Regions from separate parts of the Homo sapiens genome. Here all the other regions are linked to region 1. The links come from fine-mapping of genetic effects on gene expression. A gene starts in region 1. Each other region holds a variant in brackets. All regions are shown on one strand. Distances are between the middles of the regions.

What was found. PIP is the estimated chance that this variant, and not a neighbour inherited with it, causes the effect. A credible set is the group of variants that fine-mapping cannot tell apart.
Region 2: its variant is the best candidate, but not a certain one, in a credible set for the expression of TSPYL4 in lung (GTEx, PIP 0.80).
Region 3: its variant is the best candidate, but not a certain one, in a credible set for the expression of TSPYL4 in whole blood (TOPMed, PIP 0.77).

The regions. Positions count from the first base shown.
Region 1 is chr6:116,252,456-116,256,699 of GRCh38, reverse strand. It overlaps TSPYL4 (TSPY like 4), which reads left to right and starts at 2,625. Exons shown (of 1, transcript NM_021648.5): 1 at 2,625-4,244. The coding sequence starts at 2,692. The coding sequence ends at 3,936. It also overlaps a transcript of DSE not described here. RefSeq lists enhancers at 2,254-2,483, 2,894-3,053.
Region 2 is chr6:116,197,470-116,201,713 of GRCh38, reverse strand. All of the region lies in intron 6 of NT5DC1 (5'-nucleotidase domain containing 1), which reads right to left. It also overlaps a transcript of COL10A1 not described here. Among named protein-coding and RNA genes, the nearest start is that of TSPYL4, 54 kb to the left of the region's middle. The variant C/A (reference allele first, on the strand shown) is at 1,713.
Region 3 is chr6:116,321,258-116,325,501 of GRCh38, reverse strand. It overlaps a transcript of DSE not described here. Among named protein-coding and RNA genes, the nearest start is that of TSPYL1, 43 kb to the right of the region's middle. RefSeq lists enhancers at 1-140, 1,163-1,730. The variant C/T (reference allele first, on the strand shown) is at 2,056.

The sequences.
Region 1 (4,244 bases):
TCACTTAAATAATCAAGATTCATTAAAACATTCTATGAGATAGTAACTGGACTATACTGTCGTAGATGCTACAGAAGCTGCTATGCAGTCATTATCTAGCTGGGATAAAACTGACCTTAATGAAACAACCAATAAAGTTAAAAAGTAGAGGATAAATAAGTACGGTCATTTGCTGCATAACATTTTGGTCAAAGATGAACTGCATATACAAGTGTGGGACCATACAATTGTAATACTCTATTTTTACTGTATCATTCTTATGTTTAGATACAAAAATGCTTACCATTATGTTACAAGTGCCTACAGTATTCAGTACAGCAACATGCTGTTCAGGTTTGTAGCCTAGGAGCAATATGATATACTATTTAGCTTAGGTGTATAGTAGGCTATTGCAGCTAGGTTTGATAGATGTACTGTATGATGTTTCCATAATGACAAAATCCCTGTCATTCAGTGAAACGTAACTGTACTAAGTTGGATAGTAAAAGTCATAAGGGCTATACAGAAATCAGAAGACTGTCAAAATGGCAAGTAATTAAGGAAGGAGGTAAAGTAATAAGGTGGGAGGAGGCAATCTGCCAATTAATACATATGTGACCATGGGCATGTTAACTGCTCTGTGCTCACTGGGTCTTTGTTTATAAAATCTAATGTATTTAAACTGCCTAGTACAATCTACATGAACTGAGTGTTAAAGAATGGCCAGGTGGTTATGAGTGAAAAATGATTCAGGTGACAGAACTAATACAGGCTAGAGATGGGAATGCTTTGAGTAGTAGAGATATAAATCTTTAAAAAACTTTGGCACACACAAAAAGAAAAAGAAGTTCACATGTAATTTTATACTTTTCTATAAATTTGTATAGTAGCAAACTTGTTTTTTCCTGCTGCATGGAAAAGTAACTTTCATTCAGTATTCCCTGCTTCTCTTCATCTTGACTCAGGTTATAATGGAAAAGTTACTCTTTCAACAGTGCAAAGGTTCTTTGGAAAAGAAACAGAGCAGTGTCAATAATTCAAAGTCACAAAGTCAATTATAGCACGCTGTTTATGTGTTTACAAAGACGATACCTCAATAGATTGATTTCACCCCACAAATAAAAAAAGAGCGTTTATTAAGACAAAGAGGAAAGAGGGAGAGAAAAATAATTGCTCTCTGCTGTGTGAATCTTGTTTGCATATTTCTTATGGGATAACTGATTAGCTGGCAGGCAGTAAAGAGGTCATTCTGGACACATTGTCCTTGGGTAGGCTGACTAGGCATACAAAAAATCCTGCAAGGCAGGCTGTTTCTCCGTATTGTCTGCCAGTGACCTTTCATCAGTACTTTATCTTAGTTGAACCAGAACTACACTCCTTCCCTCGCTAGAAGTCTCAGTATATATGATGTATTCCTCTAAGAGGAATCCTTTTTCTCTAAATCTGTACTTCTGAGCCTGTATTTGAAAGTGATCATAATCTGGGGGGCTTAAAATGGAGTTTCTTTTACAAAGAGTTATAATCATAACCGTTTATTTGAATATAAATTTGACATTAAACATAAATATGCAAAATTTAAATTTCCCTTTGGTCTTGCATTTTTCTAAGGATTAACACCATTATTCTCACACTCCAACAAACTAATATATTGTACTGATAATCACTATCAAATGAATTGTAAGAGCTAACTGACTCGAATAGACAATAACTAACCTTACTTTTAAAGTATTTTAAGAGACAGTAGCATAGATGCCTGCACATAGCTGATTATTGCTCCTGTGCTGCAGTGAATTACCACATGAACACATTTTGAAAAGATTTGTTAGCTTCATGTCCACAGGCATTATGAAGCAGGAACCACTTTTAGATTAAGATTGTAACCTGAGGAAAAGAACATATGCATCAGTTTAGAAATTAAAATCCCCTGAGATATTTCTTTCAGTAATGCTTAAAAGCCTAAATTTGTGCTCGTGTGCCAGTCACCTCTACGTAAGGAAAAACATTTTGCTACTCTTTGTTAAAAGTGAAGAGGAAATATTGTCCACTTGTTTTGTAGATGTTGGCCAAATTATATAAACTTTAAAATCTGTAAGACAAATTGAAATATTCCTTTATTATGTCTTGTTAGGATGAGAGAAGTTTGCCTTTCAGCTGCTCCTTAATTTTAAAAATAACAACACAGCAACACTTCTCTTTAAAATCAAACTCTGCTCATTTAAATTCTTTGGTAATAGCCATGAATCCACACCTTAAAAGAAGGAAGGCCTGTGAGTTCGTGAATCCACTTTCCTACTCAGGAGAAGCCCTATGAACTGACTTGAATAGACAGTAACTCACCTTAAAGTAAATATTTTCAGAAACAATAGGTTAGGTGCCTTAGAAATTCATTCAGAGGCTTAGAAATCCACATTAACACAGTTCTTACATGCTTGAGTCTGGTCTACATCCATTTACGTAAGTAAAACTCCCCTTCCAGACTGACGAAATTCTTTTTGTGACAAGAAGACAAAGGAATACGATGGATTGATAAGCGTAGTCAACCGCGCAGAGAGTTCTCGCGCGATGTTACGACGCTACCGCCCTGACATCACCAGTTGCCATGGTAGCACCGCCGAGAGTAAAGGAGGGGTGGTGCTAGACGTTTCGGGCAGAGCTCGGCCGCTGCGGAGGACAAGGAACTCTCCCTCTCCCACTAGTCTGACTTCTTCCAAAATGAGCGGCCTGGATGGGGGCAACAAGCTCCCTCTCGCCCAAACCGGCGGCCTGGCTGCTCCCGACCATGCCTCAGGAGATCCGGACCGAGACCAGTGCCAAGGGCTCCGTGAAGAAACCGAGGCGACACAGGTGATGGCGAACACAGGTGGGGGCAGCCTGGAGACCGTTGCGGAGGGGGGTGCATCCCAGGATCCTGTCGACTGTGGCCCCGCGCTCCGCGTCCCAGTTGCCGGGAGTCGCGGCGGTGCAGCGACCAAAGCCGGGCAGGAGGATGCTCCACCTTCTACGAAAGGTCTGGAAGCAGCCTCTGCCGCCGAGGCTGCTGACAGCAGCCAGAAAAATGGCTGTCAGCTTGGAGAGCCCCGTGGCCCTGCTGGGCAGAAGGCTCTAGAAGCCTGTGGCGCAGGGGGCTTGGGGTCTCAGATGATACCGGGGAAGAAGGCCAAGGAAGTGACGACTAAAAAACGCGCCATCTCGGCAGCAGTGGAAAAGGAGGGAGAAGCAGGGGCGGCGATGGAGGAAAAGAAGGTAGTGCAGAAGGAAAAAAAGGTGGCAGGAGGGGTGAAAGAGGAGACACGGCCCAGGGCCCCGAAGATCAATAACTGCATGGACTCACTGGAGGCCATCGATCAAGAGTTGTCAAACGTAAATGCCCAGGCTGACAGGGCCTTCCTTCAGCTTGAGCGCAAGTTTGGCCGCATGCGAAGGCTCCACATGCAGCGCAGAAGTTTCATTATCCAGAATATCCCAGGTTTCTGGGTTACTGCCTTTCGAAACCACCCCCAGCTGTCACCTATGATCAGTGGCCAAGATGAAGACATGCTGAGGTACATGATCAATTTGGAGGTGGAGGAGCTTAAACACCCCAGAGCAGGCTGCAAATTCAAGTTCATCTTTCAGGGCAACCCCTACTTCCGAAATGAGGGGCTTGTCAAGGAATATGAACGCAGATCCTCTGGCCGGGTGGTGTCTCTTTCCACTCCAATCCGCTGGCACCGAGGCCAAGACCCCCAGGCTCATATCCACAGAAACCGGGAAGGGAACACTATCCCTAGTTTCTTCAACTGGTTTTCAGACCACAGCCTTCTAGAATTCGACAGAATTGCAGAGATTATCAAAGGAGAACTGTGGCCCAATCCCCTACAATACTACCTGATGGGTGAAGGGCCCCGTAGAGGAATTCGAGGCCCACCAAGGCAGCCAGTGGAGAGCGCCAGATCCTTCAGGTTCCAGTCTGGCTAATCTCTGTCCTGTGAGAAGCTTCTGCACAAGTTTCCTTACCACCTCCTCTTGGACCTATGCTTGGCCAACAGCATGCAGTCTTCCATCTGCTTTCTCTTCATACTGTGGATTATCTTTTCCTTTGGTTCTAAATCTTCAGTAATCGGTTGCAAGATTGTTGGCTTACCTGCCTGTGCCATTCTTCCTCTGGGCCTTCATGCTTTTCTGCATTGTGTTAACATGTTTCAAGTGCATGGCCTTCTACGGCTTCTATGCCAAGCGTATGATACTATAGATATAGTGTACCATACTGCCTTTCTTTGCATGGC
Region 2 (4,244 bases), 55 kb after region 1:
CATGACCTCACATGTCAGAAGTGGCCACATATTACCTTCCCGACTTCATGGGTGGGAAGGGATGTCAAACAAGCCTAAATAATAGTAAGCACATGTTGTTTGCCCTATTATCTTTATATTAACCAAGACTTTTAATATCATCAGTAAACCTGACTCTGGCAAATGCTCACCTCACTGAAGTTCTCAGAACTGAAAAGCATTACCGAGGCAGTCCCATAAGTCACTGGTCTCATTAGGGAAATTTGATTGGTCAATTCTTCTCCACCAACGGATTACAGAACACTACTCTATATACTGGAGTGATTCTAAATTCAATTTCTGTAACAAACTATGTTCAAATACATACCTTTATACAGTGCAATATGCCCAGAATGAATAAACAATACTGTTCACTGAAATAAAGGTGGTGGGAATGACTTCCAATTACACAGTTAGTTATAATGGCTACAGCCAAAAAGGCAAGAGTATCATAGAGGTAACTAATTGTAGTTACCTATATTAAACTTTTTTATCTGCTCATGTATTGTCCCTCCAAGATTTTACATGTGGTGACTCATTCTGAAGGATCCCCTTATCTCACCTTCTTATTCTGCACACATCTAGGTGCAGTACCTCTTGGGCAAGTTGGTACTTCACTCCTATTGGGCAAGTTAGTACTTCACTCCTACTGGGCAAGTTGGTGCTGTGGGGTGCTACCATAGTACCTTCCCGCTTTTTTCCATTCCTCTTGAGAACAAAGAAACTAAACAGAGAACCTTTCAGACCTTGGTTAGAAAAAAGCACTGGTAAGTTGTAAGGCAGCTGTATTTCTGAGTGGGTGGGGGAAGAAGAAGGGAGCATATGTGGATTTCCTCAGAAGAAAAAGTAAACATGGTCTGCCACAGGATTTATGCCAAGAAGGTGAAGAACTGTTATGTGATATCCTTCAGTTTCTTTAGCTGGGAACCTGAAACTGCTCCAAGCTAGTGGGAGAAGAGATGAAGTACGATCCATAAGGACATTAAATATCACCCAGAGAGAGAAGTTGAGGAATGACTTCATGAATAGACTTTTAAAACTAAGGGAATTATATACCAGAGCTCGATAATATCCTTCTGGATAAAATAACCATTACTTATAATAGTGTCTTACCTTTATTTAGCTATGCTTTTTAAAATAAAATTTTAATTTTAGTAGTTTTAGATGGACAGAAAAATTACAAAGATAGTCCAGAGTTCCCATACACCTCACACTCAATTTCCCTATCAATATCTTTCAATATTATGGTACATTTGTCACAATTAGTGAAGCAATACCAATACATTATTATTAACTAAAGTCCTCACTTCATTTAGATTTCCTTAATTTTTACCTAATGTCTCTTTTCTGTGCCAGGATCCCATCCAGGATACCATATTACGTTTACTGGTTATGTCTCCTTAGGTTACTCTTGACCGTGACATAGTTTCAGACCTCCCCTGTTTTTGGTAACTTTGACAGTTTTATGGAGTACTAGTTAGATATTTTGTAGAATGTCCTTCAATTGGGATTTGTCTGACTTTTTCATTAGACTGGGTTATGTGTTATTGGGTGGAAGACCATGGAGATAAAGTGCCACTCTCATGTTATATTAAGGGTATATACTATTAAGGGTCACTGTTGATGTTGACCTGGATGATTTGGCCAGGACAGTATTTGTCAGGTTGCCCCACTGCAAAGTTACTCTTCCCCCC[C/A]CACTTTCCATACTGTACTCTTTGTAAGGAAGTACAATGCACAGGCTACCCTTAAGGAGTAAAAATTCATGCTCTACCTTCTTGAAGGTAAAATGTGTGCATAAACTATTTTGGAAATATTTTGTGTGGTAGATTAGTCTCTTCTCCCCATTTATTTACTTGTTAATCACTTATTTATACCAGACTCATTGATGGTTATTTTATACTCTGGGTTATAATTCCATACTACTTTATTTATTTTGTTCTCAAATTGTTCCAGCATTAGCCATTGGGAGCTCTATCCTTTAATTCCTGTGTCCCTTTTACACACCTCCATCATTGTAATTTTTAAAAAGCATTTATTTACTTCTGGCACTACAAGATGCTCTAGGTCATCTTGTATATTTCCTGCCCCAGGCCTAAAGTCAGAGATTTCTCCAAGGAGCCCTGGCTTCTAATACTGGAGAATGGCGTTAGAAACTAAGATCTGAGTGCTAGGTGACTTCTTTGTTTTTTAAAGATGCTTTTGTACATACATATTTCTCTTTCCACAACATTGATGACAGATAGGTAAACTAAGGCTTAGAGTAGTTAAAGGATTTGCTCAGTGCCAAGGCTAATAATAGCAGTGTTGGAATAAAACTCAGTCTTCTAATGGTAGTTCCCTGTCCTTTGACTATCTAATGTCTTCTGGATGAGAACACAGCATCAAAGACCAGATTAACAACCTATAAGAAAAGGAAAAAGGCACTTCCAGAAGATAGTCCTTTCAGAAGGTAAAATTTAATAGGCGTAACTGACAAACTCTCTTGTCTATCTAGAAGAAACAACTGGAGAGTCTGTCTTTCATGGAAAGATATTTTTATACATTACGGCTTTTGACTGAGGGTGATTTAGCTCCCCTCACCCCCCAGGGACATTTGGCAATTTCTGGTGGGTGGAGGGTGCTGCTACTACCATCTAGTGGATAGAGGCCAGTGATCTTGCTAAACATTATATAATGCACAGAACAGCTCCTCCAACAAAGAATTACCCAGTTCAAGATGACAATAGTGCTAAGGTAGCTAAAGGAATAAATACTAGAAGATTCTTCATCTAATTTACACTGTTTATATTCTAACTGAATTAGTTTTCTATTGGTGGCTATGAGGGATCACCATGGAAGACTCTGTCTCATTCTGTGACCTCATGAGTTAGCCTATCAGAAGAAAAAGTCCCCACTTTGGTTAAGAAACATGGCTCTCAAATCAGATAAGAGACTCCTGTAGTCCTTTTTTTAAAAAAATATTGTTTAGAGACAGGATCTTCCCCTGTTGCCCAGGCTGGAGTGCAGTGGTGTGATCGTAGCTCATAGGTAACTTTGAACTCCTGGGCTCAAGCAATCCTGCCTCAGCCTCCCAAGCAGGTAGGACTGCAGGTGCACACCACCAGATCTGGCTATTTTTAAATTTTTTTTCTAGGGATGAGGTCTCATTATGCTGTCCAGGCTAGTCTTGAACTCCTGGCCTCAAGTGATTCTTCTGCCTCAGCCTCCCAAACTGCTGGTATTATAAGCATGAGTCACTATACCCAGCCACCTGTAGTTCTTATGTATGGGACGAATAGAAGAAGGCATGCTCTTTAAACAAGCTGCTTGAGTCAAGCAGGGCATGAGCACAGTTACATATAATGGTCCTGAAAAGGAAAGGCCTATCTCCATATAAGCCATCATTTACTGGCCACATTGACTGTTTTCTGTTTCAGGATCAAGCTGTGTGGAATAGTTACGTGGCTTTGAATGAATGGGTGAACCTTACCAAGTAGATGGCTGTTACCCAGAAACTGTTGTTCACTACTCAGTGACCTCAATTTGGAGAGGAAGTGAGTGACTGAATCCCTATTTGTTGATGTGGTGACCACCCAGCACTTTGACAGGAGAAATAACCCTTTTATTTACCAGGATCTCTCTTGGAAGATTTAGAAAAAGCTTGCTCACTCTTGGCACTAGCAAGCTGATGAAGGACATTTTCTGAGCAAAGCTAGGTGCCCTGGGGCCATAAATTGCCACTGCCCTCTATGACAAAATTCAGAGAGCTTTGGTGGCAGCCCTATCTGGGGTGAAGCTATTTGTGGAGCTCCTAATGAAGTAGACATGTGTATATAAAGTAGTCAATGCACTGGCATGTCTGGTACATGTAAACGCTTCTCAATGGTAGCAAACATAAAGAAGAAATGTTTACCTAGCGCTTTCAATCCATCAGTCCTTGTGCTAAGTTCTTTATACATTATCTCACTGAATCTGCATAACATCCTATGAGATAAATACCATTATCAAGTTTATTTTCACATGTGGAACTTAAAAGTAATTGTGTCAATTGGCCAATGCTAAACAATCAAAAAGTAGAGATGGTATTTGAATCTCTAACAGTCTAACTCCGACATTTGGGTGCCTTCATTACTGTATTATACTGTCTTCTATCTGCACTACAGCAACTAAAATTATTGTTATTAACCGCTGTACCTGGCTGTTTGTTCTTAAAACTTGGGTGGCAGAGGTAAAAGGTGGTGAAGGTC
Region 3 (4,244 bases), 69 kb before region 1:
CTGGGGATGAAGGCAAGATAGAAGATAAAAACAAATCATTTTGTACAATTCCTCTAATCCAAAAGGGAAGGAGCTCATATGTTTCTGATGATACCTACCTCAAGAACTAAAGAGCTGATGGAACTTTGGAGATTATGTATCATGCAGTACTCATCCTGGAGTGCACATCACAACTTGTGGTGGACATTTTTCAAAAATCATGCATGGTTTCACCCCAGACATGGGGAAGAAACATCTGAAAGTGAGGTCTTGGGACTTAGAAAATTTAGGCAACCATGAGTCTCACTCGCCAGGGTTTTTCTTTTGCAGAAAATCCACCTTTTCCCAGTGACTTGTGGGTTTGGAGGCTTTGGTGTCTGAAGGACTCCTATGATGCCACCAGACATGATTCGGGGTTAGCAGCCACCTGGTTCCAGCCTTTCCAAGGAGGATTGTTTCCACCCTGGGTGAACCAGTTAAACTCTGCTGCTTCCCAAAACACACCTAACCCCAGAGTGGGTGGTATGTGTCCCTAGCTAATCTCCAACTGTTATGCAAAGGAGTCATTAGCACTCCTTATCAGTGCCTCATAGTACAAATATAAAATGGGATAAACTCAGAGAAAACTTAAAAGCACAGACATAGGAGAGTGCACACAGGCAGAAATGGACTGCATGCATCCCCAAAAGGGTGAAACTCTCCCCCTATAATATTCTACTCATTATAAGGAACAGAGAAGTGCAGTGAACATCAATGCAATGGAAAGAAGTAGTTGAAATGGAAGCCTGTTCTTTCCTTAAGCTAACTCAGGCTCCTCGAGCTACCAATGAGAGGGGATAATGAACTTCCGGGTCACCTGGGTTGTTCTACCATTGCTGTTTAACAAAGCCAGCTCTCTTTGTATTTTACATATACCCCTGCACACAACCCTCAGAATCTCATGTAGGTTCCAAAGCTACGTACGCTGCAACTATCCTATTCTAAAGCAATTGTGCTTTCCCTGTCCTTTGTGTTGATGAAGATCTAAAACTCATGGAGTCAATTCAAACAGCTACAAGGGGGTGGAGTTGGGATTTCACCTGTGACTATTTGACTTCCAAACTCATATTCTTGTCAATAATCTAAACTGCTGCCTTCCAGCAGGTTACTTGTCCTAAGCTATTAAAGCAAACTGGGAAAAATAGTCAAAATACCTTTGCTTTCCTGGATCTTGCCTGCTGTTGTATATATCTTGGAGTTAGGCCAAAAACTGAGGAAAATCTGCCCACCTGCCAATGGCAAGCTGATGAAGTAAGATATAAGTGAAGTCTAATAAAATGATGGTGAAATTAGCAGGAAAGCCTACTAGCAGACATAGCTTTGGGACTTGTGTTTCCCACATGTTAATACGAAGAAAGCCCCTTTGGAGCCTGGGGTGAGGGGTAAGAGGGGGACCTATTAACTGCTGAATTCAGATCTCACAGGTGGGCACTTCCTTTTCTCTTTTGTCCTCTTACCTTGCCTCTGAGGGTTGTTAATGAGTTGTGGTTTGACTATGTGGGGCAGGTTTGACTAGGGGGCCCAGAAAAAAAGAGAAGAGTTGGATAAATCAGCCATTAAAAATATATCCTGGCTGAAGAAGGATGGTAGAAGTGGAGGGAAGATAATGGAAGAGGGAATGAGAAGAAAGGTATCAGGAAAGATGCACATGATCAGGCTAATGACCTGTTTTCCCCTTATAGAAACCATATACAAAATTAACTATAACTTATTGCCAACTTAATTTTTTCTCTTGGTGTATATTTTATACCTGAAATGCTATTAAACATATTTCTTACTTTTCTGTTAGATTTAAATTTTCAAAACTTTCTTCAGAATATTTAAAAATCTTTGTGTTGTTCATTACAAATCAAATGACATGAAATTCCATTACCCTTAGAACTAAAATGAGTAAAATAGATCATAATAATATAAAGGTTTTTCCTGGACACACTTTTCGATAAGAACATTTAAAAGCACATTTGTAGACAAAGCACACTATAGCACCTGGCTGCTAAACGAATGTCCAAGAAGTAATTATTATCTGCCTTGCTGCCA[C/T]TGAAAAGTTTTTTATTTTTCTGGCAAGTCAAATGTGAATCTCACTACTCAATAAAAAAATAGAAATCCAAATTAATTATTAGCTTAACAGTAGAAGAATCTAATAAGATTGAGTACAGTCGTGAAGAAACACAGTGAAAGATGTTCAGCTCTTATATTTCTCAGTATAGGATTTCTTACAAGGTAAATGACATGACATTGCTACAACTGAAAAAAATACATATTTTAAAGAAATCTGTTTAAAAGCTGGCTTACAACTGATGTGTAATTTTCACTTTACAAGGGAACTGGGAGAGAAATGTTTCCACTGACATCTTAAAGAATAACATTAACAAAACCAGACTTCAATTGTTGCAAATCTGGGATTCCATAATCACAGACCAGTAAAGCGCAAAATACTGTGAACCACTATCAGCTCTCTTTTCTGGAAGACCCTTATGCTCCCTGCATGGATAAATTATTTTCTGCAGGTGGTTAGGGGAGGACTTCCCACAGCCAGGAAGCAAAAAAATGCTCTCTACACTAACACTCCAACTTGCTCTACATGGAGTGCAGTGTCAAATCTGGGAAGTTACTCTTCTGAAACATTATTCTGCAGTCTCTTCTACCCTGCCACTTCTCTCTCTTCTCTCCATATTTAAACAGAAAATCTTGGTTGAGAGTCATTTACACATGCACATGGGCTGATTACATTTCAACAAATTGAAATCTCAGCTTCAATCACAGGTTTGCATTTAAATCTTATCACTGGTTGAGGAATGAAATACTTTTTCTTTATTTACTTTAAGCATCAACGAAATGATATATTTTAGGAAGAAGGCAATCAGAAACCTAAAAAATCACTCCAGGTTTATTCAACAGGTCCCAAAGGTAAATCTTATTTAATTGGGGTGGGGGGGCAGAAGTAATTTTGGGGATGGTGGGGAAGGAAAGGTTTGTCTAAAGACTCAGTGGCAGAGGCTCTGCTCCCTCTGGGAGGCTGGCTGAGGCCTACAGACCTTTGGGAACATCCAGGTCTTCATCTCTTTTATTTAACATCATATTCCACTTATTCTATTAAGGGAGGAGACCACCCCTCATATTGTCTTATGCCCAATTTCTGCCTCCAAAGAAAGAAAAAGTAAAAACTAAAAGGCAGAAATGAAATCCACAAGCAGACAGCCCGGCGCCACACCCTGGGCCTGGTAGTTAAAGATCGACCCCGACCTAATCGGTTATGTTATCTATAGATTACAGACATTGTATAGAAATGCACTGTGAAAATCCCTATCCTGTTTTGTTCTGATCTAATTACCAGTACATGTAGCTCCCAGTCACGTACCCCCTGCTTGCTCAATCAATCACGTCCCTCTCACACGCACCCCCTTAGAGTTGTGAGCCTTTAAAAGGGACAGGAATTGCTCACTTGGGGAGCTCGGCTCTTGAGACAGGAGTCTTGCTGATGCCCCCGGCCGAACAAACCCCTTCCTTCTTTAACTCGGTGTCTGAGGAGTTTTGTCTGTGGCTCGTCCTGCTACACTATCATGTGAAAAAATTGCGGCATGTTGATTGTCAGGTACTAGACGTACAGTAGTGAACAAAAAAGACAAAGTTCCTGCCCTTATGACACAGTATAGGGGAGAAGGCAGACACTACTTAAAGAACTGTAAATATTTGTTTGTTTATTTATTTTGAGATGGAGTCTCACACTGTCCACCCGGGCTGGAGTGCGGTGGCGCGATCTCGGCTCACTGCAACTTCCACCTCCCGGGTTCAATCGATTCTCCTGCCTCAGCCTCCCGAGTAGCTGGAATTACAGGCGCCGGCTAATTTTTTCTATTTTTAGTAGAGACGGGGTTTCACTATGTTTGCTGGGCTGGTCTCCAATGCCTGAACTCGTGATCCACCTGCTCGGCCTCCCAAAGTGCTGGGATTACAGGCATGAGCCACTGTGCCTGGCCAGGAACTGTAAATATAAGAAGAGTTTTTGTGGGCTGGGTGCAGTAGCTCATGCTTGTCAAATCTCGGTGCTTTGGGAGGCTGAGGCAAGAGGACTGCATGAGGCCAGGAGTTTTAGAACAGCCTGGCCAAGATAGCAAGACCCCCATCCCTACCAAAAAAAAAAAAAAATGAAAAATTAGCTACACATGGTGGCACACACCTTTAGTCCCAGCTACTCAAGAGGAGGATCACTTGAGCACAGGTGTTCA